Regions from separate parts of the Homo sapiens genome. Here regions 1 and 3 are each linked to region 2. Evidence: fine-mapped expression QTL. A gene starts in region 2. Each other region holds a variant in brackets. All regions are shown on one strand. Distances are from middle to middle.

Region 1 (11,431 bases), 430 kb before region 2:
TCTAAAGGGAGCCCAAGACCTAATTGGAGGAAGAGGCAAGGCCTTGTAGGTCAGTGTTAAAGATTTTGGACTACAGAGGCTGGGCACGGTGGCTCACACCTGTAACCCCAGCACTTTGGGATGGCGAGGTGGGTGGATCATGAGGTCAGGAGTTCGAGACCAGGTTGGCCAACATTGTGAAACCCTATCTCTACTAAAAATACAAAAATTAGCCAGGTGTGGTGGCGGGTGCCTATAATCCCAGCTACTCAGGAGGCTGAGGCAGGAGAATTGCTTGAACCTGGGAAGCCGAGGTTGCCGGGAGCCCAGATCACACCACTGCACTCCAGCCTGGGTGACACAGCAAAACTCCGTCTCAAAAAAAAAAAAAAAAAAAATTGTGGACTACAAATGTGAAGCTTTTACAAGGTCTTGAGGCCGGCAGTAGCTCACGCCTATAATCCCAGCACTTAGGGAGGCTGAGACGGGAGGATCACTTGAGCCCAAAAGTTCAAGAGCAGCTCGGGCAATAGAGTGAGACCTTGTCTCTACAAAAATATAAAAAATTAGCTGGGTGTGTGTCTGTAGTCCCAGCTATCAGGAAGGCTAAGGTGGGAGGATCACCTGAGCCCAGGAGGTCAAGGCTGCAGTGAGCCGTGAGTGTGCCACTGCCTGGATGACAGAGACCCTGTATCAAAAAAAAAAAAAAAAGAAAGAAAGAAAGAAAAGAAAAGAAAAGGGGGTGGGGGCTTAAGCAAAGGAGTGATAACATTGTGTTTTGAAAAGATGCCTCTAGCTGGGAAGAAAATGATCTGGATTGGGGCAAGAACAGATATAAAAGTTATTTTATCAGATGGGTTGAGATGAGGGCCTTAGGCTTCTGAGATGAATTGCATGAACTGGGTGTGAGGTGTGACAACCAGCTTGCTAGGGCAGTAGATAGTGGTGCCATTCCTCAGATAGGGACCTGGGGATGGGATGGAGACACTGTCAGGTTTGTAGGAAAGATCTTGAGTTTAGTTTTAGATGTGTCAAAGTCAGTTGCCTCTGAGACACACAAGTAGAGATTCCATGTAGAAAGACAGATCAAAATGTAGGAATTGTCAGTGTACAGATGGCAATCGAAACAAGCTATGGCAATGCAGGAGACTGTGCAGGGACAGAGAGAACAGTGACAAGAGTGCAGGGCACAAACATTTACAGGTTGAATGCAGGAAGCCTGTAAATGTACCCCAGGAACCAGGAGCGGGGAGGAACATCAGAGGGCAGCACATATTTCAGGAGCCGACTCGCCTGCTGGACATGGAAGTTGGAGTATCCTTGGGACCAGGGTTTGCAGGGCTCTCAGATTTGTAAACTGCAGTTAGTGATTCTGCTGTGGGCTGATGGGCAGCCCTCCTTCTGCTCCATTTGTTTCAGCAGAACATAATTTTGAAGGTCTAGCAAGTGAACTTTAGGCCTCATTTTGTAGTTTCTTTTTTTTTGAGACGGAGTCTCGCTCTGTCACCCAGGCTGGAGTACAGTGGCGCGATCTCAGCTCACTGCAAGCTCCACCTCCCAGGTTCACGCCATTCTCCTGCCTCAGCCTCCCAAGTAGCTGGGACTACAGGTGCCTGCCACCATGCCTGGCTAATTTTTTTTGTATGTTTAGTAGAGACAGGGTTTCACCATGTTAGCCAGGATGGTCTCGATCTCTTGACCTTTTGATCCGCCCGCCTCGGCCTCCCAAAGTGCTGGGATTACAGGCATGAGCCATGCACCCGGCCTCGCTTTGTAGTTTATTTCAGATTTTTACATGTATATCTCAATTAACAAAGAAAAGGGGGTAATTTAATGAAAGAACACATTTTGCTGTCAACATTTCATTACTCTTATCTTCCACCATTTCCACATCAGCTATTATCAAGTAAATACAAGTGGACATTTTTAAGTACAGTATCTTCAGAATTGTACAAATAGGAAATGAAGTTCTGAACCCTGATGTTCAGAAAACACCAAGGTGTAGCGTTTAATTGCTTTCCAAGACCCATTCATGACTTGTCTCATTTAGGCACTATTTTTTCCCCAAAGCAGATTGCGTCAACAACCATCGAGTCCCTGCTATGCAAGACATAAAACTGCTGAGATGATCCTACTAGTAACTATTTAATGAAAGAAAGATGGGAGGAAGGAAGGGAGCAAGAGAGGGAAAGAATGAGAAGATGAGTTTTGCAATAAAAGAGTCCATAATTTGGTGGTGAAGATCTATTTCAAATAGCTAGTAGATGTTATCTCTCTTTTGGTAAAATAATGACAATATGCTTATTTCCTAAGCACGTGGTTGAAAATCAATCTTTGTGCACTCTGGATCAAATAGGCATGCGAATATAAAACACCTTATGTGAGATGGATCATTTAAAATAGAGTATAAAGACAGTGAGTTTGTATTTGAAATGACAAAACAAACTTAAATCACCCTGCATGATAGCCAATTTCAACCTCTCCGCTTTTTAGCAATTTATCAACCAATCATTAAGTGAGTTAACTCTACACCCAGGGAATGCTGATGGCAGCATTAGCCATAAATAAATAAGCTAATATGTACAATAGCTAAATGAATAGACTTTTCCTTGGTGTTTTATGGCCTGAAAAGAATGCAGCTTTTCATTAAAGGAATCATTTGAAAATGTGGAAACTGATACTGCCGCCGTTCAGTGCTCTCTGCCCATTGATAATGGCCTCTGTATTAGTTGTGGGGGTGGGAGACTGATGTCCATTTACTTTTGCAAAGATTGTTATTGAATGAAACCTTTAATGGGGGCGTTTTATGATCCCACTCAGCTAAGAGCTCAGGGTTGCCTTAGAATAGTCTTTCCCTTCACCTCGACAGCTCTTAGAGAATCAATACAGGTAATATGTCAGTTGGTGGTCAGCAGTCCTGCAAGTAGAGGTAGAGTTGAAATGGAAACTGACAGGTAGCCACTTAGAGAGAGGGCCTGGAGTAAACACTCTGAAAAGTGAAGCTTCTCCTGGGAGTGGGGAGTGTGCAGCCCTCACACTATCATCAGTGCCGGGATCCGATAGGAAGAGCTAGGAACAAAGACAAGACAGCAGGGGAAAAGCCTCTCAGAGCTGGGGGAAGGCTGTCCATTGGGGCAGTACCTTTAGAGCCCCAGGATTCATATGGTTTGTCCACTTGTAGCATCTGTCATTGGTCTAATTTTAAAAAAATTATTTTAAAATGATTTTTTAAAATTGTGGTAAAATAGATGTAACATTTATTGTCTAAACTTTTTTTAAATTTCTTTTTTTTTGAGACAGGGTCTCACTCTGTCATCTGTCACCCAAGCTGGTGTCCCTGTGGTACAGTCACGGCTCACTGCACCTTCGACCTCCTGGGTCCAAGTGATCCTCCCATCTCAGCCTCCCAAGTAGCTGGGACTACAGGCACACGCCACCATACCTGGCTAATTATTTTGTATTTTGTAGAGATGGGGTTTACATGTTGCCCAGGCTAGTCTCGAACTCCTAGTCTCAAATGATCCTTCCACCTTGGCCCCCCAAAGTGCTGGGATTACAGGTGTGAGCCACTGAGGCTGGCCTTTTTTTTTTTTTTTTTTAATTTCACTAGTTTTGGGGAAATAGCTGGTTTTTGGTTACATGGGTAAGTTCTTTAGTGGGGATTTCTGAAATTTTGGTGCACCTGTCACCCAAGCAGTGTACAATGAACCCAAAATGTAGTCTTTTATCTCTCACCCCCCCTCCCACCCTTCTCCCCCAGTCCCCAAAATCCATTATATTAATGTCATTCTTATCCCTTTGCATCCTCATAGCTTAGCTCCCACTTATGAATGAGAACATACAAGATTTGATTTTCCATTCCTGAGTTACTTCACATTCAGTGGCATTAAGTAAATTCACATTGTTGTGTAGCCACAGCCATTATCCAGCTCCAAAACTCTTCATCTTGCAAACCTGATTCTCTACAACCATTTAACAGTGACACCCTGCAGGCCCAGTGACCACCATTCTACTTTCTGTGAATTTGACTACTCCAGGTACCACATATTAGTGGAATCATAGTGTTTGTCCTGTTTGGGTTGTGAGTTTAGGTTTCTCAGAGAGAATTTCCCCTATGCTGCCTTTAAGCATTTTGTGATTAATATACTGTAATTCACAGACAGATCTCTATTTTTGAGAGTCATTTTGTATTTGTTATTCAAGTAATAGTTTACAAACATCTGTTTCTTCGTATTTACTTTCTCTCCCTCTCAAATCTTGCCACATCTTGAAAAAACAATTGCATGTAAGTATCCAGCTAACTGGTGAACCAGGAGGTGCCTTTGCAATTCATAAATTGGCAATTGCAAAAGTTCCTGGCTGACAGTGTTCAAGTGTCTTCTTCCTCTTACTGGGCACTTGAGTCTGCAGGCTCAAAACCCCCAGGCAGCCAGAGCCTGGAGGGCCTTAAAGGGCCTTATATTGGAGCATTGTCTTTGCACTGGCCTTCCCAGGCCCTGCAGTCCTCCCCTTGGGCACGTGCACAAGACTGGGATCCCATGTCACACCAGCCACATGTCACACCAGCCATAACCTAAGCTACTAGTCAACAGGAAAGATTTCAGACCCCCCTGTTATCATCAGGAATAGAGAGACCCACCTTGGACTTGCCTTGAGGGGGTTTTAGGGCTGAAGGGATTTGGTATAGTATTTAACAACTGGGAAAGAGAGACGGCCGGTTCCCTCTAAGGAGAATCCGGAACAGCAACCTTGGAAGACACCGTACACAGTTTTAATGGAAGATAGATTCAAAATCAAATTTAAGAGAATTTGGTTCTGGCACCTTTAAATCAGATAACCCGGGGGAGTGGAATTCACCTAGAGGGCTCTTCCCTAGGTCAGGTCTGCACAGCCTTGTAGCAGTAAGGTTGAGGAAACTTTTCCAAAGGAAAAAAAATCCTACTGACCCCAAAGCAAGCTTAATGGGGATAAAATGAGTGATTTTGTTTTGCAGTTTTCCCTCTGCATTCTCTGGCTGCATCTCAGTACGTGCATTGGTTAATAATGCGAACCCCACCCCCAACCCCCAGCTATTCAGGAAACTGAGTCAGGAAGATACCTTGAGCCCAGGAGTTTGAGTGAGTTATAATGGCCACTGCACACCAGCCTGGGCAACCAAGTGAGACCCTGTCTCTGTCTCTTTAAAATAAATAAATACACAAAAAGGCCAGGCACGGTTGCTCACCCCTGAAATCCCAGCACTTTGGGAGATCGAGACAGACGGATCACTCGAGCTCA[G/C]GAGTTCAAGACCAGCCTGGGCAAGATGGTGAAACCCCATTTCCCCAAAAATACAAAAATGCCAGACGTGGTGGTGTGCTCCTGTGAGTCCGGCTACTCAGGAGGCTGAGGCAGGAGAATCGCTTGAGCCTGAAAGGCTGAGTTTGCAATGAGAGAGATAGCGCCACTGCACTCTAGCCTGGGCGACAGAAAGAGACTATGTCTCAAAACAAAACACAAATGCCAAGAATTAAAAAAATAATATATTAGGTAAGAAAAATCTTACATAATATTTTCATTATTAACACTTAAAAAATTGTGCTTGCACCGGGCGCGGTGGCTCACGCCTGTAATCCGAGCACTTTGGGAGGCCGAGGCGGGTGGATCATGAGGAGGTCAGGAGATCGAGACCATCCTGGCTAACACGGTGAAACCCCGTCTCTACTAAAAATACAAAAAAATTAGCCGGGCGTGGTGGTGGGCGCCTGTAGTCCCAGCTACTAGGGAGGCTGAGGAAGGAGAATGGCGTGAACCTGGGAGGCGGAGCTTGCAGTGAACCGAGATCGCCCCACTGCACTCCAGCCTGGGTGACAGAGCCAGACTCCGTTTCAAAAAAAAAAAAAAAAGTGCTTGCTTCAGCAGCACACATGCTAAAATTGAAAAAAACAATTGATACATATATAGAGATGCCAAAAAAAACACAAATGGGCCCAGCATAGTGGCTTGTACCTGTAATCCCAACATTTTGGGAAGACCAAGTGGGAAGATCGCTTGAGCCCAGGAAGCGGGAAGATCGCTTGAGCCCAGGAGCTAGAGACCAGCTTGGACAACAAAGTGACAACTCCATCTCTATTAAAAAAAAAAAATTGGCTGGACGTGGTGGCCCATGCTTGTAGTCCCAGCTACTCAGAAGGCTGAGATGGGAGGATCACCTGAGCCCAAGAGGTTGAGGATACAGTGAGCCATGATCATGAGCCACTGCACTCCAGCCTGGGAGACAGAGTGAGCGAAATTCAGTTTCAACCCCTGCCCCTCCCCCACCCCCTACCTTCCCCACACAGAAACAAATGGAGGTCTACTGTTTTTGTTTTGTTTTGTTTTTTGTTTTTTGTTTGTTTGTTTGAGACGGAGTCTCGCTCTGTCGCCCAGGCTGGGGTGCAGTGGCGCGATCTCGGCTCACTGCAAGTTCCGCCTCCCGGGTTCATGCCATTCTCCTGCCTCAGCCTCCCGAGTAGCTGGGACTACAGGCGCCTGCCACCACGCCCGGCTAATTTTTTGTATTTTTAGTAGAGACAGGGTTTCACCGTGTTAGCCAGGATGGTCTCGATCTCCTGACCTCGTGATCCGCCTGCCTCGGCCTCCCAAAGTGCTGGGATTACAGGCGTGAGCCACCGCGCCCGGCATTGTTTTTTGTTTTGTTTTTTTTTCCAGACGGAGTCTGGCTCTGTTGCCAGGCTGGAGTGCAGCGGCACGATCTTGGTTCACTGCAGCCTCCGCCTCCCAGGTTCAAGCGATTCTCCTGCCTCAGCCTCCCGAGTAGCTGGGATTACAGTCACGTGCGGTCACACCCAGCAAATTTTTGTATTTTTAGCAGAGACGAGGTTTCACCATGTTGGCCAGGATGGTCTCGATCTCCTGACCTCGTGATCCACCCACCTCGACCTCCCAAAGTGCTGGGATTACAGGTGTGAGCCACCGACCCTGGCCAGAAGAACACTTTTTAAAACAATTCATGAAAATGAAGAATGGGATTCCATCCCCTTTGATAGATTTTCTTGATAGTAAACTGCTTTCAATAGAAAGTACTGTGCTAGAAATAAATCCAAGATGAATTTTATGAATCTACGATGCAATTTACATGTTAAAGCACAAACAATTTATCTCACTTTTTAATATACCAAAAAATGTATCAAGAATTCTCATCTCAAATATAAACAATAATTTTTTTTTTTTTTTGAGACGGAGTCTAGCTCTGTTGCCCAGGCTGGAGTGCAGTGGCTCGATCTCGGCTCACTGCAAGCTCCGCCTCCCGGGTTCACGCCATTCTCCTGCCTCAGCCTCCTGGGTAACTGGGACCACAGGCGCCTGCCACCATGCCCGGCTAATTTTTTGTATTTTTAGTAGAGACGGGGTTTCACCGTGTTAGCCAGGATGGTCTCGATCTCCTTACCTCGTGATCCACCTGCCTCGGCCTCCCAAAGTGCTGGGATTACAGGCGTGAGCCACTGTGCCCGGCCTAAAATTTATTTTTCAAAAGAGAAGAGAATTCTGGCCGGGTGCAGTGGCTCGCACCTGTAATCCCAGCACTTTGGGAGGCAGAGGCAGGTGGATCGCCTGAGGTCAGGAGTTTGAGAATAAATAAATAAATAAATAAATAAGAATTCTGAGATAATTTAAGATGAAAAACAATTTAACAGTGAAAAGAATATCCTGAGATCATGTGCAAAAATAGAACCAATCTTCTCCCTAAACATTCTCTCTCCTAGTTGTAATCAGGGCTAAATATCTCATCTCAAAATACTAGAATTTATTCTATTTAAGCTCCTTTACACCAACAAAGTGATGTGGTGAAAATTTTTTGCATTAACTAGTGGAAGTACTTTTTATTTCTTGAACACGTAACCTCTTTGAATAATGTAGAAAACCATTGTTTTCTGGCTGCGAGCGGTGGCTCACGCCTGTAATCCAGGCACTTTGGGAGGCCGAGGCGGGTGGATCGCGAGGTCAGGAGTTCAAGACCCGCCTGGCCAAGATGGTGAAACCCCATCTCTACTAAAAATACAAAAAATTAGCCTGGCACGGTGGCAGGCGCCTGTAGTCCCAGCTACTCAAGAGGCTGAGGAAGGAGAATCATTTGGACCCGGAGGGTGGAGGTTGCAGTGAGCCAAGATCATGCCACTGCACTCCAGCCTGAGTGACAGAGTGAAACTCTCTCTCAAAAAAAAAAAAATAAAGAAAACCATTATTTTCTATATGAGATTCTCATACTTTATGAAGAGAATGTCAATGAGGAAGACATTTATCTCTGTTTTATATAATTTTTAACATTATTTTCCTTTCAAGATAATTTTGGTAATTCTATTTTAATATCTGCCAAATAACAAAAAAGTTCTTTTTTTTTTTTTTTTTTTTTGAGATGGAGTCTTACTCTGTCACCCAGGATGGAATGCAGTGGCACGATCTCAGCTCACTGCAACCTCTGCCTCCCGGTTCAAGCAATTCTTGTGCCTCAGCCTCCCGAGTAGCTGGGATTACAGGCACATGCCACCACGCCTGGCTAATTTTTGTATTTTTAATAGAGACTGGGTTTCACCATGTTAGCCAGGCTGGTCTTGAACTCCTGACATCAAAAGATCTGCCTGCCTCGGCCTCCCAAAGTGCTGGGATTACAGCCGTGAGCCATGGTGCTCGGCCACAACAAAAAAGTTCTATGATATGAGATTCTAGCTCAATGTTTCTATTGAAATAATTCAATGTACAAGTCTGTTCCCCTGAACTTTGGGCAGGGTTCATAAATTTAAGAGTCCATTGCAGTTATTCAGTTACTGCCCCTGGAGTCATAAAACTTTTTTTTTTTTTTTTGAGATGGAGTCTTGCTTTGTCACCCAGGCTGGAGTGCAGTGGTGTGACCTCGGCTCACTGAAACCTCCGCCTCCTGGGTTGAAGCAATTCTCCTGTCTCAACCTCCCAAGTAGCTGGGATTACAGGTGCCCACCACCACACCCAGCTAATTTTTGTATTTTTAGTAGAGATGGGTTTTCACCATGTTGGCCGGACTGGTCTCGAACTCCTGACCTCAGGTGATCCACCCACCTCCGCCTCCCACAGTGCTGGGATTACAGGCATGAGCCACCGTGCCCGGCCTCACAAAGCATTCTGAACGCCCTTAAAAACTATGTCTGAGCAAAATATTCTGCAATCTATAATGTCAAAATCAGATCCACCAATAATAGATGGTCTAGGACAGTATTTGTGATTTTACCTGTATTATACTTGGAATGGCAGCTCCTACCAACCCCAGCCTGCCCTGTGCTTTGCCTGGGTACAAATGAGCTGTAACTTTGTGGCCAGTGTGGCCAGAACACTGAGTCTTCTGCAGGCCCATTGAGATCCCAAGCATCTATCTACTCTGATAGCTTTGTTCACTGCAACTGCCAACTTCCCCAGATTCAGAAAGGACATCCTGAGGGCTTATTAGGAGCACCATCAATATCAGGGATGCCGCTTTACTTTTAGCCTAGTTATTTTTTCAGGGTTTTAAATGTCCCTCTTTATACATTTTTTTTTATTCTAATGAGTGGAAGGATGATACAATTATCAGATACAGACTCAGGTAGGGAAAAGAAATATAAGCAGAGAAACTACCTCAGGAGATCTCTAAATTCTATCTGTAGCTCCAGAAACAGTTCTGTATTTCCAACAATAAAATAAGAAAACTGTTTTCCACTGGTATCCATTATTCCCAGTAAGTACACCATACTGCCTGCAGTCCTCATTATAATGGTGTCTCCTAATTAATAGCTGCAGTGACTGGGAGGATAAATCAAATAAAGCAATGGTTCTTCAATATTATGGATGTGATGTTAAACCTCAGAAATCAAATGATTTTTCCAACATTATACAATGAGGAAATGGGGGACAAATACTAGTTTGCCTGACTCCAAAATCTGCATTCTCTATGTTATACCTTATGCTGCATCTAAAAATGTTCAGCCAGAATAAGTGTATTAGCGTAGTTTTAATCTCATTCTACATTCTACGTGGTGCTTTGTCTTCTACTTTGACTGTCCTAGTCTACTGTTTTTTTTTTTTTTTGAGACAGAGTTTCGCTCGTCGCTCAGGCTGGAGTGCAATGGCGTGATCTCGGCTCACCACAACCCCCACCTCCTGGGTTCAAGTGATTTTCCTGCCTCAGCCTCCCGAGTAGCTGAGATTACAGGCACGGGCCACCACGCCCTGCTAATTTTGTATTTTTAGTAGAGACCGGGTTTCTCTGTTGGTCAGGCTGGTGGTGAACTCCCAACCTCAGGTGATCTGCTCACCTCGGCCTCCCAAAGTGCTGGGATTACAGGCATGAGCCACCATGCCTGGCTGTCTACAGCTTTTATTATTATTTTAAACTGGTTTAAATTAGCTTTAGAAATAGATTACATACATTTTATTTTTAAAAATTTTAAATATATTTTTAAAACAGGGTCTTATAGTGTTGCCCAAACTGGTCTCAAACTCCTAGGTTCAAGTGATCCTCCTGCCTCGGCCTCCCAAAGTGCTGGGGTGACAGGCATAAGCCACTGCACCTGGCCAATAATATACATTAAAAAAAATAAACATAAAAGAGCTTCAGGGTATTACTATAGAAAGATGTTATGTTATGAATGACTGTATTTCCCAAACTAAAAGTTGAATTATGTAACCCTATCAATATGACCAAAACTTTGAGTAAACAGGTATTAAATGAAATGGTCCCCAAAATTTTCTAGTTAGTATAGGATATATTATCCGTTATACGGTATTATTATTTGATTGTTCAATTACTGGCATGCATGCATTTGAATGACTGTTAGAAAATAGCAAAAAAAATAAAATAAGAAAAAATAACCCTACCTCCCTTTGCTGCTATTCTAGGTCAAAGAATGAAGTTGTTAATTTGAATTATTCAGTGAGTGAAAAAACTGGGATCACACCAGTTTGTGATGACTTGTTTTACTATTTGATTTAAAAATAATGTTTAAACCCATAACAGTAAGAACATGTTTCGAGTAATACATTTTGAACCAGCAGTTAAGGAAAGGCTGCCTAATTACACAATGAGCCCCCACGTCTTCGAAAGACCATTGTTCTGTCTTAATTAACATGAAGTAAATCAGTCCTAAAACAACAGGGCACATTCCCATTAGGATAAATTACTCAGACTTCAGCAAGGCAGCAAATAATTCCCTAGAGTAGAATCTGTCACTGCTTTTCCACCTGCACTATATCTCTCTCTCAAAGGACTGGGCTAGAGCTGGGAGCCTCCCTCTGGAAGGGGCATCTGTTCCATATTGAATTTGCTCCATTTGTGGCCATGGGTGGAGGGTGCAGCAGATCCCCAGGCAGTCAGCAGAAACACAGCTGGGATGGGACAGATCCTCAGCAGCTGTGGCTGCCTTCAAAGCACTTTTATCCTGCTTATTCTGGTCTCAAATCTTCCACGTGG
Region 2 (11,431 bases):
GGTCTTTGATGTTGGTGACCTATGGATGGTATTTTGGTGTGGATGTCCTTTTTGTTGATGTTGATGCTATTCCTTTCTGTTTGTTAGTTTTCCTTCTAACAGACAGGACCCTCAGCTGCAGGTCTGTTGGAGTTTGCTGGATGTCCACTCCAGACCCTGTTTGCCTGGGTACCACCAGTGGAGGCTGCAGAACAGCACCCACCTGTATGAAGTGTCTGTTGGCCCCTACTGGGAGGTGTCTCCCAGTCAGGCTACACGGCGGTCAGGGACCCACTTGAAGAGGCAGTCTGTCTGTTATCGGAGCTCAAATGCTGTGCTGGGAGAACCACTGCTCTCTTCAGAGCTGTCAGGCAGGGACGTTTAAGTCTGCCGAGGCTGTCTGCTGCCTTTTGTTCAGATATGCCCGGCCCCCAGAGATGGAATCTAGAGAGGCAGTAGGCCTGGCCGAGCTGTGGTGGGCTCCACCCAGTTCAAGCTTCCCTGCTGCTTTGTTTACACTGTGTGCATACAACTGCCTACTCAAGCCGCAGCAACGGCGGACACCTCTCCCTCCGCCAAGCTCCAGCATCCCAGGTCGATCTCAGACTGCTTCACTAGCAGTGAAGCAAGGCTCCTTGGGCATGGGACCCGCTAAGCCAGGCACAGGAGGGAATCTCCTGGTCTGCCGGTTGTGAAGACCATGGGAAAAGCACAGTATTTGGGCAGCAGTGTACTGTTCCTCCAGGTACAGTCACTCACAGCTTCCCTTGGCTAGGAAAGGGAAATTCCCTGACCCCTTGTGCTTCCCGGGTGAGGCAACGCCCTGCCCTGCTTCAACTTGCCCTCCGTGGGCTGCACCCACTGTCCAACCAGTCCCAATAAGATGAACCAGGTACCTCAGTTGGAAATGCAGAAATCACCCGTCTTCTGCGTTGATCTCGCTGGGAGCTGTAGACCAGAGCTCTTCCTATTCGGCAATCTTGGAAGCGACTCCGTCAAAATACTTTTCAGTTCCTCTTTTGATATCTTCTTTAAATGATCTCAAGATCCCACAATAGGCCAGCTGCAGGCTGAGGAGCAAGGAAAGCCAGCACAAGTTCCAAAACAGAAGAATTTGGAGTCCAATGTTTGAGGGCAGGAAGCAACCAGCACAGGAGAAAGATGTAGGCTGGGAGGCTAGGCCAGTCCCCATTTTTTGTATTTTTAATAGAGATGGGGTTTCACCATGTTGGCCAGGCTGGTCTTGAACTCCTGACCTTAGGTGATCTGCCTACCTCGACTTCCCAAAGTGCAGGGATTACAGGCGTGAGCCACTGTGCCCGGCCTTATATTTTTTATCTCTTGATGAGAAAGATCAGAGTCTTTTTTTTCTCTCAAATCCTTCAGCCAATCCATCAGCAAGAACCGCCAGCACTATATATTCTGAATCCAACCACTTTTCACCATTTCTATGATTTCCATGTTGGTGGAGGCTGTTGTCATCACTTGCCTGGACTATAGTTATAGCCTCTGACTGGCCTCCCTTCTTCCAATCTTGTCTTCCAAAGGATCTTTTCCCTACACAGATGCCAGAGTGATGTTTTAAAAATGTAGCCTGAATCATGTTATTTCTATACTCTGAAGCCTCCAAAAGCTTTCCAAAATATTCAGAAGACAATTCGAACTACAAGACCCTACATGAACTGGATCCCAACTACCACTCTCCCTGTCTCTCTCCTGAATCCAGCCATGCTGGGCATCTCGATATTCTTTATGTGTATGGTATGAAGCTAGCTTGTGTCTCAGGGCTATTCTACTACTCCATCCTCTACCTGGAAGCTTCTTGCCTTGTCGCATCATATGTCTCAGGTCTCTGTTCAATGTTGCCTCTTCAGAGGGACCTTCCCTTTCCATGTTTTATAAGTTAGGTCACCTGCCCCTTGTCATTCTCAGTATCCTTCATTTGCTGTATTTTTTTCACGGAACTTTTCACTACCTGAATTTATATCACAATACTTCTGTTTATAGTTTGTTATCTCTCTCAGCTACCAGCATGCTATCTTCATGACAGAAGGAATTTTTTGTTTGTCTTGTGCCTTGATGTGTCCCTAGCACCTAAATTGATTTGGCACATAATATGTGCTCAATAAATACCTTTTACTAAAAAAATGACTCAGTGTTTACTAATACAGGACTGTGGTTCTCTAGATTTGTATCATTCTCTCATATTGCTCTGGGATTGCAAAATTATCATAGTTGGCTGGGCGCAGTGGCTCATGCCTGTAATCCCAGCACTTTGGGAGGCAGAGGCAGGTTGATTGTTTGAGGTAAGGAGTTGGAGACTAGCCTGGCCAACATGGTGAAACTCCGTCTCTACTAAAAATGAAACAAAAAAAGTAGCCACATGTGGTGGCAGGAGCCTATAATCCCAGCTACTCTGGAGGCTGAGGCAGGAGAATTGCTTGAACCCGGGAGATGGAAGTTGCAGTGAGCCAAGATCATGCTACTGCATTTCAGTGTGAGTGACAGAGCAAGATTCTGTCTCAAAAAAAAAAATTATCATAGACACATGTACATTCCTGAAAGCACAATTAATCAGCATATAACATTTCCTGGACAATTTACCTAAAGAATAGTAGAATCTAAATAATATTAGAAGACAGTTGAATTAGATCCAGTCAATCAACTACCTGATTTGTCTTTTCAGCTGCGATGATAATTTCCGGCAGGTGACCCAGACATGGTAGGCCTGTTGGCTTGCAGCATGACTGTGGTTAGATGTGCCATCCTCATGTACCATGAAAGCAATCTGAGTGCACACCCACTGTCTGTGTTATTAGGATAAGTTTTCTTTTCCATCTTGATTCACCTCACAAATCACCAAATATTCTGTGTCGTGGTAATTTCCTGTGTTCTTAAAAGTATTTACCTCCCACATTACCGAAAAATTTAAAAGACCAGAGTTGACCAGAAAGGCCTAGCCACTTCACAAAAACTTCCCTTTTATGAATGCTTGTGGTTAGTCACATAAGAAATATGTTGAATTCTCTTCATGTGTCAAATTATGTGGGAGGCACTAAGAAAAAGCAAAAACACAATAGCCCTACATCGGGATCACACTCTCACCTCTCTCATTCATGGTATCTGCTCTGGAGAAGTTTATAATCTATTCAAAGCTAAAAAAAAAAACAAAAAACAAACAAACAAAAAAAACCCGGCCGGGCGCGGTGGCTCATGCCTGTAATCCCAGCACTTTGGGAGGCCAAGGCGGGCAGATCACGAGGTCAAGAGTTCGAGACCAGCCTGATCAACATGGTGAAACCCCGTCTCTACTAAAAATACAGAAATTAGCCAGGCATGATGGCAGGCGCCCATAATCCCAGCTACTCAGGAGGCGGAGGCAGGAGAATCACTTGAACCCAGGAGGTGGAGGTTGCAGTGAGCTGAGATTGTGCCATTGCACTCCAGCCTGGGCAACAAGAGCAAGACTCTGTCTAAAAAAATAAAAATAAATAATTAAATAAATAAATAAAGCAGAAACCACCTAAAATGGAGACTAACGTGAAAGTATATAGTTAAGAGCTACATTGATGGGTTGAAATATATATTATAGGAATTGAGGGCTGAGCAATCATTGACTGGATTGGACCTTTCAGAGAAGGTTCTAGAGAACGAAGGAAAGCTTCATAGAGAAGTGGACACAAGACCCAGTCTTAAAGGATGAGGGACGGTACTGCAGGCACAAGAAATTCACTCAACTGATGATGATTCAGCATCAGTTTGGTCACCATTATCGAAGCGTTTTGAATGTGTAGCTGCGACCTAAATAACTTCCCAGAGGTAAATGCATCCTGTAGGTTTACAACAAGCAGTATTATTAAAGTAGTCTATATAAAGAAGCTACTCCAGAAAGAAATTCAAACCCACACATGATTAAGCAAGAAGGATGAATCATACTCAAAATGGAGGAAATAACTATGCAAGACTTAAATAACTACTTGTGCTTAGTTTAAAAGCTGTTTTTTTAAAATCTCTCCCTTTAAAAGCTTTTCTTTACTCCCCAAATCCAATAAAATAATTCTATTTAACTTTATCAGTACAAAACTTACTGCCAAAGAAAATAATCACAATATTTATGTTGCTGTATTAGTTATTGCAAAATTGATAAAAGAAGATGGAACAGATAATGTGCTCTTATTAATACACATGGAATCACTAATCCTGTAACAGTTTTATCAAGGAGGTGTGATTAATGCCATTTTGAGGTGGCACAAGTAAGGGTCAAAACTGACAATAAGCCAAGTTCCTAAGCTCCCGCAGCTTGTAAGTGGCATTGCTACTGGGGTTTGAAGTCTGGTCTGTCTGGCTCCATAATACCACCAAGACCTGCCATAAGGAAACTAAATAGGTGGAGCACAGTGGCTCACGCCTGTAATCCAAGCACTTTGGGAGGCCGAGGTGGGCGGATCACAAGGTCAAGAGATCGAGACCATCCTGGCTAACATGGTGAAACCCCATCTCTACTAAAAATACAAAAAATTAGCCAGGTGTGGTGGTACGCCCCTGTAATCCCAGCGCTTTGGGAGGCCGAGGTGGGCGGATCACGAGATCAGGAGATCGAGACCATATTGGCTAACACGGTGAAACCCCATCTCTACTAAAAATACAAAAAATTAGCCGGGCGTGGTGCCACGTGCCTGTAGTCCCAGCTATTCGGGAGGCTGAGGCAGGAGAATCGCTTGAACCCAGGAGGTGGAGGTTGCAGTGAGCTAAGATCATGCCACTGCACTCCAGCCTGGGCGACAGAGGGACTCCGTCTCAAAAAAAAGAAACTAAATGAAAACAGGTTAAGTAGAAGAAGGAAGCCAGTCTATGATGGTCGACAAATGAACAATACACTCACACATAATAATCTGCGAGGTATACAAATAGATTCCATCTACTATCAATCTAGGGCACATCACTTCCAGCAAATCTTGCTTTTAATTTTAACAGCACTTGCATTATTCACAATACTTAATTTGACCTTTCAGTTTTCTATTTTTACACTGATTTTTACATGAAACTTACACATTAGCGAGAGAAGCACTTTAAATCAATCCCAAACAAAACACAAAATGAAAGTCTCTGAGTCAGGAAAGATTGGGAGGCAAAAGTTTGACCTTGTGAGTTGCATCCATTAGGAGCACTAGCAATCTTTGCCAGCCAGCAGCCAGTAGGCAGAGGGGTGGGAAGTAAACGCCAGGATAACGAGGCAAGACCGCCTCCCAATTCTCTTGAGTTACGCTTCTATTTTATTTTGTTTGAATTTTTTTGGTAGAGATGGGGTCTTGCTACGTTACCAGGGCTGGTCTTGAACTCCTGACCTCAAGTGATCTTCCTACTTCAGCCTCCTAAAGCACCGGGATAACAGGCATGAGCCACCATGGCACCTAGTCTTGCTGGAATTTTTGAGATCAAATCTGCCATGTGTAAATCTAAGTCTTTATAAGAAGCATATTTCAAAGCCAAATACTAGTAATGTTTATATCAGCCGCTATTTTACATTGCTCAGGCAGTGTTCTCTTTCACTAATGCTATTAGCTGAACATTGGTTCAATTGCTTAGAATGGAAACAATTATATGTAATATTTCATAGTTATTGCTCTTGACATATATCAAAAGAGAAGTGACACTGGATGTGACAATTCAAATAAATTCCAATATGGAACACAACTTTTGCCCCCAATTTTTCCTGTGTTTTCAAATAGAGATGCTAAGCTTTATTTCTCATACTACTTATTTGTTGGGTCCTGCTCACAGGACTGGAGGAGTGAGGTCAGTATGATATGGAGTGCTGGGAAGGGAAAAGCGTGGTCCCTTTAAATGATGCGGAATGGAGGAAGGGAAGTGCTGGGTAGAGAAAGGCGGGTCCCTGGCTAAGGCTCCTCCCCGACGAACCCCATTCCTGCTTTCCCGCTCAAATGTTGCATTTTCTAAGACCTCCCTGGCCCGCCATACGCCGATCCTGAACCTACGAAAACCCAAGACTGCGGGCACGGTGGCTCATGCCTGTAATCCCAGCACTTTGGGAGGCCGAGGCGGGCAGATCACGAGGTCAAGAAGTCGAGACCAGCCTTGCTAACATGGCGAAACCCTGACTCTACTGAAAATACAAAAATTAGCTGGGCGTGATGGCGTGCGCGCCTGTAGTCCCAGCTGCTCGGGAGGCTGAGGTAGGAGAATCGCTTCAATCCGGGAGGTGGAGGTTGCGGTAAGCAGAGATTGCGCCACTGCACTCTAGCCTGGCGACAGAGACTCCTTCAAAAACAACAACAACAACAACAACAACAACAAAACAAAACCTCCCAAGACCCTAGTGGGCAGACACACAGCCAGCCAGACATGGAGAGGAGCACATTAGCAGAAGAAGACGCAAGTGGCTGGTCCTCGAGAGGACGTTGAGAGGAGCATGCCAGCAGAAGAGCACACAACGACAGGCACCGACACACCACCGGCAGGCCATGCACCAGCAGAATGATGCGGAGTTTGACGGGGCAGTCAGAGAAGAGCCTGGGCCGCCAAGGGGCCCGACTCCAGGGGAAAACCATCTCCCTTCTGGCTCCCCCATCTGCTGAGAGCTACTTCTACTCAATAAAACCTTGCACTCATTCTCCAAGCCCACGTGTAATCCGATTCTTCAGGTAAGCCAGGGCAAGAAACCCCAGGATACAGAAATCCTTCTGTCCTTGTGATAAGAAAGGGGGTGTAATTGAGCTAACACAAACCGCCTATAGATGGCAACCTAAAAGAGCATCCTGTAACACACGCCCGCCCACTGGGGCTTCAGGAGCTGTAAATATTCACCCCTAGACACTGCTGTGCGATCGGAGCCCCACAGCCTGCCCGCCTGTATGCTCCCCTAGAGGTCTGAGCAGCAGGGCACTGAAGAATCGAGCCACACCTCATCACACACCCTGCGAGGGGGACAAGGGAGCTTTTCCCATATCAAGTAGATTGCCCTGGTGCTGCAGAAGCAGGAAAAACAGGACCTGCCCATACCCAAGAGCCCGGCAACTCTGGCTAGAGTGAGGCCTGAAATTGTGTCCGGAATTGGTGGGTTCTTGGTCTCACTGGCTTCCTCTCAAAATCACGCTCAAGAGACGCCACAGTTAGAGGTAATGGCACCTCTTTTTTTTTTTTAATTTTTAATTATTTATTTTTTGTGAACTGGGGTCTGGCTCTGTCACCCAGGCTGGAGTACAGTGGTGTGATCATAGCTCACTGCAATCTCGAACTTCTGGGCTCAAGTAATTCTCCTGTCTCAGCGCCTGAAGTTGCTGGGATTATAGGCAGGAGCCGCTGCTACTGGGTTTACTTTTTAAATTGTGGTAAAATACACATAACATAAAATTTACCATCCTAATCACTTTTAAGTATACAGTTCAGAGGTATTAAATACACTTAAAATGTTGTGCAACCAGCACCGCCACCCACTTCTGTAATTCTTTTCATCTTGCTGTTAAAATTATGAGAGGCCATTGTTTTGGACCTAGGCCAAATCAGATCAGACCTCTTTCTGCACTAGGCCCCAACAGACCAGACCAAATCAAAATGGAGTCACTCATGCTAAATGAGACATAATCAAAATGAAACTAAGGAAGCTGCAAAGCTTTGCTGCCATTTTTAGATTACTACTTTCCTGATTCAGCATTTTCTTGGTTACAACAAAAACAGACCAGTTTTTTTTTCTCACCTGAAAACAGGAGATTCCAGCATAAAGAGGTCCCTTCTGTTCTAACCCTTACCAAAAAAAACAAAACAAAACAAAAAAAAAACAAACCTGAAGTCCTGGTTCTCACATTTAAAAACTCACTGTTTTGCTATTTCCCACTGAGATTTGAGACCAAATAAGTACACTGACAATGGTGACAGAGTGACATCAATGTCTAAAGTTTTGGCCAATCAAAACTGAGAGGTTGACCAAAAGGGGGCAATTGTTAAATTAAGTTTTGCCTAAAGCTGCCTCCTTACATATTTTAAGTTTGGTCTAAATGTTTCTCCATACACAGTGAACTGTAACCTGACTGGAGGTGTAAACAGACTGTAACCTACTCTTGTGCCAATCATCCAGTTTTGGCCAATCACAGGTAGCCAACTGATCGAATGTGTTCAACACCCAGCTGTAACCAATCAGGCTGTTTCTGTACCTCACGTGTGTTTTCTGTATGTCACTTGCATTTTTCTGTGAAAAATCCTCTCTGACTGCGAGGCAGTGCCAGAGTTGCTCTTAACTTATTCAAGGAGGTCGGGGAGTCTGCATGGTTCTTGAATTGTTCTTTGCTGAATTAAACTCTGTTAAATTGTCTAAAGTTTTTTTTTAACATTGCAAAACTGAAACTGTACATCCATTAAACACTAACTCCCCATTCCCTTCTCCCCCCAGCCCCAGACGACCATCATTCTACTTTCTGTCTCTATGATTTTGATTACTCTAAGTATTATTGGTACCCTTTATGTAGCACCTTGGTGACTGAAGACCAGGTTCAGGGAGGTTTTTGTGTTTTGGTTTTGCTTTTTGTTTGTTCTTTTTTTTGAGACAGGGTCTCACTCTGTCACCCAGGGTAGAGTGAGTGGTGTGATCACAGCTCACTGTAGCCTTGAGCTTCTGGGCTGAAGCGATCCTCCCACCTCAGCCTCCTGAGTAGCTGGGTCTATGTGCATGTGCCACCATGCCCAACTAATTTTTTAATTTTTTTGTAGAGGTGTGGTGTCTTACTGTGTGGCCCAGGTTGGTCTCAGACTCCTGGCTGCAAGCAATCCTCTCACCTCAGCCTCTCAAAGTGTTGGGATTACAGGTATGAGCCACCACACCCAGCCAGGCTCAGGTTCCTAATGTTGGTTATCCATCTATGAGTACCAACATGCAGCAGTGGTAATTATATTAAAACTTACTATAATTTTAATTAATCTTTTGTTTTTGTTTTTGTTTTTTTTTTTAAGACAGAGTCTCGCTCTTTTGCCTAGCCTGCAGTGCAGAGTGGCACGATCTCGGCTCACTGCAACCTCTGTCTCCTGGGTTCAAGCCATTTTCCTGCCTCAGCTTCCTGTAGCTGGGAGTACAGGCATGTGCCACCACACCCAGCTAATTTTTTTTTTTTTGTATTTTTAGTAGAAACAGGTTTTCGCCATGTTGGCCAGGCTGGTCTCGAACTCCAGACCTCAAGTGATCTGCCCGCCTTGGCTTCCCAAAGGGCTGGGATTACAGGCATAAGCCACTGCGCTCGGCCTGATTTTCATACATAGTACATATGTATATATATATATATTTAATATAATTTTCAAAATCTGAGCATTATTATATTACAGTTTGCAAGATCTTAGCATTATCATAATATCTTTTTTATTTTGTCTTAGGCCTCTCCTGCCAGTTCTAAAAACTAGTAGAATAAAAACCTTAGGTACTAAGTTATACTTCGTTTACCATTTTCTCTAATTTATTATTTCAACTCAGAATCACAAAAGAATGCTCATTCAAACACAGTGGTAATATGACAGTGAGTAGCACTTGAGAAACACAAGCCAGACACAGTGGCTCACACCTGTAATTCCAGCACTTTGGGAGGCTGAGGTGGGAGGATTGCTTGAGCTCAGGAGTTTAAGACTAACCTGAGCAATATGACAAAACCCAGTATCAACAAAAAATACAAAAAAAAATTATTTATTTGGGCATGGTGATGAGTGACTGTATTCCCAGCTATTCTAGAGGCTCAGGCAAGAGGATGGCTTGAACCCAGGAGGCGAAGGTTGCAGTGAGCCAAGATCACGCCACTATACTCCAGCTTGGACAACAGGGCAAGACCCTAAGAAAAACAAAAACAAGCCACCTTTCCATGTGGATTATATTCCTAGGCAATTTACTATACGTGGAAATAAAGTGTATCAACTATTATTTTCTCCCAGAAACACTGCTGTAACAGAAGGGTAAAGTTCCTGACCTAGGGCCTTATGCCAACTTTTACTAAATGCAGGACTTAATAAACTATAAATGATATATTTTAGTTTCATAGCATAAAGCTTTCTAACACACACACATAAATCAATTAAGTAGTGCTACAAGTAGTCAATAAACATAAAATCCATTTAATATGGTGCAGTCTGTTTGACCACATCTTCCTGCCAACTATTACACTGAAGCAAAACAACTCCAATGGGCAGGCTTATTCATTTTATGGATTTCAGGATGATTTCCTTGAGGACATTTTGACGAGTATATTGAAGGAAAGTTTGGGGCAGTTATGTGATGCCGTTCTGGAAAAGAAAAAAAGTGAACTCAGGAGTGATTACTTGCCATTCCCTCGTTCTCTGATAGTCAATTTTCCTGTTGTAAAACCTAGGGATTAGAACTAATCACAGCCCACTAGTGTGGTTAAGGTTGGGATTCATTTTCTCAAAAGGGGAGAGCAACATATGTTCATGTGAGAAACTGCCTGTTTACGTGTCAGAAGTTACAACATGGGTGTAATTGGCAAAGGGCTGTAAGTGTGAATGGCTATGAGTACAAATCACTGTAAGGATTGCTTGCATGATTTCCCCCTCCAATTTATCACTGAGTGGAAGAAACATGAGCGGGGAGATCTTGGTTCTTGTCATCCCAGTTAATAAATTCAAAGCAAAAATGGGCAGACTCACAGAAGGCCTGAGAGTCCTGAACTAGACCTTCAAATAATCCCAAATGTCATGTCAGACTACTGTTCTGTGATAAGAAATGGTCAGTTATCTTTTAAGAACCCAATAAACATCACGCAAAGTGGATCTCTAATAATTATTCTCCAAATCTTGTGATAAAATACTGAGCTTTATGTCAAGTCAGCCCTGTGTGGCAGGACACCGTGAGCAGTACAATTTGTTCTACCTCAGGTTGAGGGATAAAAGAAACCACTCATTTAATCTTGTATTACATCAAAATTGATTTGGTCAAAAGTCACAAATTAGTTCAGTCATTTTTGACAGCATGATTTTTATCAGAGGACCAAAAGTTTGGTTAAATGATGGGAGAGAAGGGGAGAAGATTTTGTTTCCAATCTTGGGAAAAAGATCTGTGCATCAAAATTATTCACCTATCATTTTCAGATACCATTGTTCACAATAACTCTCCTAGAGCTGTGTTTATTTTTTGCAGAATGCACTCTGTCAGTTACATTGATCTTAAAGGGCTTAGTTATTCCTTTCCTTGCTGTGCAACCAACTCCACCAAAGTTGTGTTTATCTCTGCTTGTTTTCTAATCCAGTGGAACCAAGGAGGCAAGATGGTCAGGTATGATATGATTTCCCCTTAATATGGAAACTGCTGTTTATCTAGTATGTTGCAAAAGTAGTAGCCTTGCTCTCTAATCACCTAAAACATACCTGAAAGCAAGAAGGTTCTCTCCCAAAAGCTGGTAAACACAATGTCACAAACCAACCTGTCTGCCATAAAGGCACTGGTGATGTC
Region 3 (8,000 bases), 270 kb before region 2:
TACAAGCCAAAATGATGTATACATTTGATCTAAAAGTGGCACACAAGCTGTGCAGTTATGAGTTAAAGAGTAATTAAGGCTGGAGGTCTGCCTAGAAGTACGATGGCCAGAAAGATAAGAGCAGGAGACAGCCTGGAAAGTACAATGGGACCAGCCAGCAAAGGGCCTTGAATACCATGGGAAGGCATTTTCCTTCGTCCTGCAGGCAGGGAGACTCACTGGAGGCTCAGGAGTTACACAGCCAATGTATTTTTAGAAAGTTAATGGTGATAGCAGCGGGGATGGATTATAGAAGGTAAAGAAGCAGAGATGAGTTAAGGTGAGAAAAGATGTCTTAAATTAGAGTGCTGAAAATAAACATGGGAAAAAAGGGTTATATAGCACAGAATACAGTGAGGAACTGACAGAGCTGACTAAATTGGCTGATTGTGGGGAAGGAAGAGGTAAAAGAGAAGGTGGCTGGAACTGAGGTTTCTAGCCTCGGTAAGGACAAAACAGGTGATCAGCGCATGGTGGTTACACAGACTGAGATAGAGCACAGAAAAAAGGATGAGGCAGTCTTTTCAGAAGGCAGAGGAGAAAACGGGTTTGGTTTGAGAGTATCAATTTAAGGCACCTGTGGAACACCCCTGTGGATGTCTAATGGTAGCTGGCAATCTGGACGGACAATGAAACTGTAAGACGGGGGCTGTGGGGAGGGACTCACCGAGTATCTGTGCAATGAAAGATGAGGGAAAGGTCAAGGGCAGATTTACCTTGACAGTCAGCACAAATACAAGCAATAGTTAAAACTCATTAAAGAGCGAATTTTATTTGAGAAGAAGAAAGGGCCAAGGTTTAGATGAGGAAAAAAAGCCAGTGAGTGAGGATGAATGTGGTACAGCTCAAAAGTAGAAAGGGGTGAGGTGCAGTGGCTCATGCCTGTAATTCCAGCACTTTGGGAGGCTGAGGTGGGAGGATCACCTGAGGTCAGGAGTTCGAGGCCAGCCTGGCCAACATGATGAAACCTTGTCTCTACTAAAAATACAAAAAAAATTACCTGGGTGTGGTGGTGGGTGCCTGTAGTCCCAGCTACTCAGGAGGCTGAGGCAGGAGAATTGCTTGAACCCAGGAGGTGGAGGTTGCAGAAAGCCAAGATTGCGCCACTGCACTCTAGCCTGGGTTGTCAGAGTGAGACTCCATCTCAAAAAAAAAAAAAAAAAAAAGTAGAGAGGGATGGTCAACAGAGACAGCTACCAGAGAAGCTAGGCAGGCAGATGGGAAGAAGAGCTGCCACCTCTGATCAACGGGAGTCGCTGCAGACAGTCCAGGGAGCAGTGAGGGGCACACAGGCCAGAGTTTAGCTGCTGAACAGTAAACAGGAGTGTAACTTCCTTCATTTTGTAAGAAATTTGGCAATAAAGAGAAGAAGAACGAGCAAACAGTATGGTGACAAGAAAACCATCATAAGGAGGCAGAACTCAGATCTTTCTTGGTCCCAGGCCACATCCTGCCATCTCCCTATTCACTCCTCTGTTAGCTGTAGGCTAATTACATCCATTGACAGCCAACTAGGCCAGAATTTGCTAAAAGAAACATCTTTAATACTCACGCTATCAGGATTTTTCGTACCTCTATATAATGTATACAGTCAGCCTTCTGTATCCATGGGTTCTGCATTGGTGGATTCAACCAACCACAGATTGAAAATATTCAGGAAAAGATGGATGGTCTGTACCAAACATGAACAAGCTTTTCTTTTTCCCCCCTTGTCATTATTCCCTAAACAATACACTATAACAACTATGTATATAGCATTTATATTGTTTTACATATTATATAATAAGTAATCTACAGATGATTTAAAGTAAACAGGAGGATGTGCATAGGTTATACACAAATACTATACCACTTTATATCAGGGACATAAGCATCCAAGGATTTTGGTATCCATGGGGGTCCTGGAACCAATCCCCCATGGATTCAGAGGGGTGACTGCATAAAATATGTATATTTATTTATAAGGTACACGTATGTACCTCTGTTAGAATGAACATCAAATATTATTGGAGTTCAATATTATGGGTCCTGGTTTATCTATTCATTTCTAGCTGAAAGGCAAGAGACCAACCACCTTCCATGAAGCCCAAGCAAGATCACTTCCTAAGGCATACAGCATTACTGCCTTACTCTAGGGATGGATTTTGCACTGTAATTTACTGATCTGTGGCCTGTCTCTCCTACTGCTCAACTCCAGCTCCATGAAGAAGGCATTCATTAAGGGTTTCCTGACTGACAAAATCATTGTGTAATTCTGACTCGCCACTACCTATCCCTAGTCAGGTGACACAATTGAAGGAACAATAATTGCTACAACATGGATAAAGCTTAAGGACATTACACTAAGTGAAATGAGCCAGTCACAGAAGGGCAAATATTACATGATTCTACTTACACAAGGTAACTATAATAGTCAAATTCATAGAAGATGAACAGTAGTGATGGTTACACAAAAATGTGAATGTAAGGCCAGGTGTGGTGGTGCATGCCTGTAATCATCCCAGCACTTTGGGAGGTCGAGGTGGGAGGACTGCTTCAGCTCAGGAGTTCAAGGCCAACCTGTGCAACATAGCGAGAACTCAACACTACCAAAAAAGTCAAATGTGGTGTTGTACACCTGTGGTCCTAGCTACTTGGGAGGCTGAGGTGGGAGAATCACTTGAGCCCAGGAAGTCAAGGGGCTGCGGTGAGCCACGATTACACTACTGCACTCCAGCCTGGGTAACAGGGTGAGACTGTGTCTCAAAAAAAAAAAAAAAAAAAAAAAGTAAAGTGAATTTACTTAATGCCACTGAACTGCACATTTAAAGATGGTAAATTTTATATTATGAATATTTACCACAACAAAAAAGGTCAAATTAAAATCAATTCTCAGGTTAAAGGATAATTGGTATTTAGAGTCTTTAAATCAATAAGTATTACAAGCAGAACTGCAATTCTTGTAATTTTGTGAAGTATCCTCTACAGTCACATTCACAGAAAATCTCTTAACAAAATATGAACCAGAATCTGACATGCTGATAAACACACCTCTGGAGTAAAAGCTGGACTAGCAATCATAATCTCCAAGTCCAGAACTGCAGGTCAACTTTTTAGCAGACTTTGCACTCATGACAACACCTAAGCTGTAAGAGGCTCCATTTCTTACCTATAAAGCTGAGGTGAAGAACACTATTACTGTTGCCCCGGAGTTATTACCTTACAAATCTCAGGGATGGGGATGATAAGAGGATAAAAACACAAGCTCCTACACTGATTACCAGGGATAAATGACTCAGTAATTAACAAAAGGTGAACATTTTGTAAGAAGAAATGAACTAAAATATTTCAGAGTGAGCAGCAGTAATAAGAGGAGGAAAGAACTGGAAGTGAGTGCCTCTATTCTGCCCATGCCCAAACTACAGATAGAAGGACAGCCATTACACTTCTTCTTTCCCTGTAACCTGTATAGGAAGTCTAACGTAGCAAAAAGCTTCAGCGCAAGAAATACTCTTTAGGGGGACATGAGAAACGACTGAAATGAGGCAAAATGTCCAGAAAGGAGATGTCAATGCCATGGTGGTTTTCTCTCATTCTCCTATTGACTTCTAATCTGCCTCAAAGAATCCTCCTTCCTGTACCTTAGAATCTCCCCGCTCCCATTTTCTTGGCCTATGATCATGTTTAGTGCCCTAGATTATTCAGTGATAAATATTATGATACTTGACTATAGAAGGCATTCTGTGATGCAATATAGTATTAGATAATTATTCTTTTCAAAATATCTCCTTGGAAAAGATGTTCAACATCACTATTCAGCAGGAAAATGCAAATGAAAACCACAATGAGATATCACCTCACACCTATTAAGGACAGCCACTATCAAAACCACCCCCAGAGAGTAAGTGTTGGTGAGAGTATGGGAAAATGGAAAGTCTTGCACACTGGTGGTGGAATTGTAAAATGATGCATCCACTATAGAAGACACTATGGAGGTTCCCTGAAAATTTAAATGCAGAATTACCATGTATAAGCCAGTAATCTCACTTCTGGGTATATACCCAAAAGAATTGAAAACAGGATCTCAAAGAGATATTTGCATCCCCATGTTAATTGCAGTATTTTATTCATAACAGCCAAGATATGGAAGCAATCTATATGTACATCAATGGATAAATGAATAAAGAAAATGTGGTATATAACACAGTAGAATCTTATTCAGGCTTAAAAAAAGAAGGAAATCCAGTCACATGCCACAAAATGGATGAACCTTGAGGACATTAAGCCATGTGAAAGAACCCCAATCACAAAAAGACAAATACTGCCTTGTTTTATTCATATAAGGTATCCGAAGTAGTCAAACTAGCAGAACTAGAAACTAGAATGGTGATTGTCAGGGGCAGGGAAACAGAGTTGCTGTTTACTGGGAACAGAGTTTTACTCATGCAAGATGAAATTCTAGAGATCCACTGTACAACAATGTGCATATAGTTAACAATATTGTAATTTACACCTAAAAATTGGTAAGAGAGTCAATTTACTTTATGTGCTTATTTACTACCCCACCCACAAATTCACCAACCAAAAAAAAGTCTCCTTGGAAGGACCAATGAAAATAGTTGCAAGGGCTGGGCGCGGTAGCTTATGCCTATAATCCCAGGACTTTGGGAGGCTGAGGTGGCCGGATCACGAGGTCAAGAGATCAAGTGGTGGCTCATGCCTGTAATCCCAGCACTTTGGGAGGCTGAGGCAGGTGGATCACGAGGTCAAAAGATCGAGACCATTCTGGCCAACACGGTGAAACCCCGTCTCAACTAAAAATATAAAAATTAGCTGGGCATGATGGCATGTGCCTGTAGTCCCAGCTAATCAGGAGGCTGACGCAGAAGAATCACTTGAACCTGGGAGGCAGAGGTTGCAGTGAGCCGAGATCGCACCACTGCACTCCAGGCTGGTGATAGAACAAGACTCTGTCT[C/CAAAAAAAA]AAAAAAAAAAAGAAAAAAGAAAGAGGAAATAGTTGCATGTGTAATTTATTACTGTATAATCCATATCAGTCTGAAAATACGTAAGTCTAAAGTCCATAAAATTAGTCACAGTTCCCTCTCCCTTCTTCTACCAGTACAACAGATTTTTAAAATAGGATCGTTCTTATTGATTTGTTTTTAAAAAAACAAACCCAAAACAAACACCCATGAAAAATGTACTTTACTATAATCCCAGCTACTTAAGAGGCTGAGGTGGGAGGATCACTTGAACTCAGAAGTTTGAATCAAACCTGGGCAACATTGCAAGACCTCAACTGAAAAAAAAAAGAAATAAGAAAGAAAGAAACAGAAAAACCTACTTTAAACCTAAGCTAACCAGTGAATGACAATAATAAACAGTGGTATTTGTGCTCTTATATCTTTTGTTTATTTCTATGTTTAAACTCTTCTCCCTACCACAGCACAAATATTTAATTCATTTCTCAAAAATTGGCATCATTCTTCAAACTAAAAGAATGAATTAAATGTAAACATCAGCTCACAGAAATTTAAATGTACTCGGCAAATTCTTACATGAGTTATTTCAAAACCAATATATCTAATATCTGCGCAGCACTAACATAAAATGTGAATGTGCGTTCTATATTATATATTCTAGTCTAAAACAATATGTCTATTTAAAACATTAGAGAAAATATTCCATGGTAATTAAAGTTCCTAATAAAAAATTATAAAATACTTCTTTTCATAGGATTCTTTTTTTTTTTTAAGATGAGGTCTCGCTCTATCACCCATGAGTGCAGTGGTGCAATCTTGGCTCACCGCAACCTCTGCTTCCCGGGTTCAAGCGATTCTTCTGCCTCAGCCTCCTGAGTAGCTGGGATTACAGGCGTGTGCCACCATGCCAGGCTAATTTTTGTATTTTTAGTAGAGACGGGGTTTCACCATGTTGGCCAGGATAGTCTCGAACTCCTGACCTCAAGTGATCCGCCTGCCTCAGCCTCCCAAAGTGCTGGGATTACAGGCATAAGCCACCATGACCGGCGAATAGGATTTCAAAATATATTCTAGTCGACAAGCTGTGAGGATTCTTCATCCTTACAAAAACAAACAGGGCTCCAGCTATGCTTATCAGAATCTAAGAGAGTTAACAGTTCACCACCACTTGTTTTATAAAGATGTTAATGCACTATCAGGAGGCAAACAAAAATATTGTAAATAATATTTGTCACAAGATAGGTTGTAATCTGTAATCCTTGTGCAAGGATGGGAATGTATTCACTCAGTTACTATAATACAAATGTTATGTTCTTAAATTTAGGGCAGTATTTTCTCCTGATATAAAACCATTACACAAGGCTGAATAAAGGCCAGGAATCAGAAAAATCCAACAAATATTTATTTTACATAAACTAAGAACAAACATGATACTCAAAACCGCTGCAGGTGGCTGGGTGCGGTGGCTCACGCCTGTAATCCCAGCACTTAGGGAGGACAAGGAGGGCAGATCACCTGAGCTCAGGAGTTCAAGACCAGCCTGGGCAACATGGCGAAACCCTGTCTCTACTAAAAATACAAAAATTAGCCAGGCATGGTGGTGCATGACTGTAGTGGTGCACACCTATAATCCCAGCTACTCAGGAGGATGAGGCACAAGAATCGCTTGAACCCGGGAGGCAGAGGTTGCAGTGAGCGGAGATCGTACCATTGCACTCTGGCCCGGAAGACAGAGCAAGACCTTGTCTCAAAAAAAGAAGTGCTGCAGGTCCAAGGGTTAGGTAGATAATACAACCTCTGCCATCAAGAAATCTGTCATTCAGTGGGTGAAGAGAAAGTGAAGTACCTAAAACACTAAACAAACACTAAACAGAGTAAGATCAGACAGTACCAGAGATGTCAAAGGAGATGAATTCATATTTGTTTGGAGATTAGAAAGTGTTTTGTGAAAAAAAAAGCAGTGTTTGAGATAGGCCTTGAAGAATGAACAGTAGGAATGTAATGGGAATAGACAGAAACAGGAAAAGCAGTATTTTGGATAGGGAGGAAAGAATACAAATAATCACACCAAAGTGAAAAAGCACAAGTATGTGAAGTATGTGTCAGCAATAATAAGTAGTCTAGGGTAATGGGCTTTGGGTATACGTACTGATGAAATGAGCCACAAGAATACAGTAGTAGGCCAAACTGGTCAGACCCGAGGTCTTGGTGAAGCCCCCTTGCCACTGGACCTTCTACTATCATCCACCCAGATTCCCTGTCACTATACACTACAAACGCAGAATAGCTGTGATACTCCATCAGGATGGCCTACTAAAGGTGAGCAGATGTCAACCAGCTGAGAGGGGAAAAAAAAAGAGGCATTCCCAAACAGAAGACCCAGAAGGAGGAAACCACAACGTGAGAGCCTGAGCCAGTGTATGTCATGGGGAAGAGATGCAAGTGCAAAGGAGGTTGTCGGTTGGAGCAAGGGAGAATGGCAGGACTGGAGACAAATCACAGGGGTACTAGTCTTCTATGGTGAGGGTTCTTCTTTTGGACTTTGTCATAGACTCCGCTAGTAGTCACGAAGTCGGGGCAAATGATCAACCTGGCTCCCTCAAGGAGGATCTTAAGGAGTACCTTTAGCAGATTCTTGTATAGGAATGGCCAAGTATTACTCCCCTGGGCACAATGGCAGATACTATGCCCCAGCAATCAAAGTGGCAGGAGCAGGTAGCATACTGATTCACCTCCCCCACCCTCTGACAAGTACAAGAGAGGGCTGAGCAGCCAGGAAACATGTGGGCACTCTTCACTAAAGCTGGGGTGGGAGTAGGACAGAAGGTAAGGACTGGCAGCTAGTGGGCTCAGCCCAAGGGCTCTTATCTACAAATGTGCCCGCAGTGTCACAATATGACTCTGCATTAAGTCATTAGTGACAATGTCATAAGGAACTATAAACTAAGATATTTAAGAATTTCTCTATCTTGGTGTTTGAACCTGCAAGTGGGTACTTCTGAGTGTAC

The links.
Region 1: its variant is fine-mapped to the expression of LINC03020 in whole blood (TOPMed, PIP 0.98).
Region 3: its variant is fine-mapped to the expression of LINC03020 in whole blood (INTERVAL, PIP 0.98).

The regions. Positions count from the first base shown.
Region 1 is chr8:70,038,141-70,049,571 of GRCh38, forward strand. No RefSeq gene overlaps it. Among named protein-coding and RNA genes, the nearest start is that of PRDM14, 27 kb to the right of the region's middle. The variant G/C (reference allele first, on the strand shown) is at 5,257.
Region 2 is chr8:70,465,205-70,476,635 of GRCh38, forward strand. It overlaps LINC03020 (long intergenic non-protein coding RNA 3020), which reads left to right and starts at 5,930. Exons shown (of 4, transcript NR_110653.1): 1 at 5,930-6,641.
Region 3 is chr8:70,198,267-70,206,266 of GRCh38, forward strand. The region is part of intron 4 of NCOA2 (nuclear receptor coactivator 2); the gene reads right to left. Among named protein-coding and RNA genes, the nearest start is that of PRDM14, 130 kb to the left of the region's middle. The variant C/CAAAAAAAA (reference allele first, on the strand shown) is at 4,995.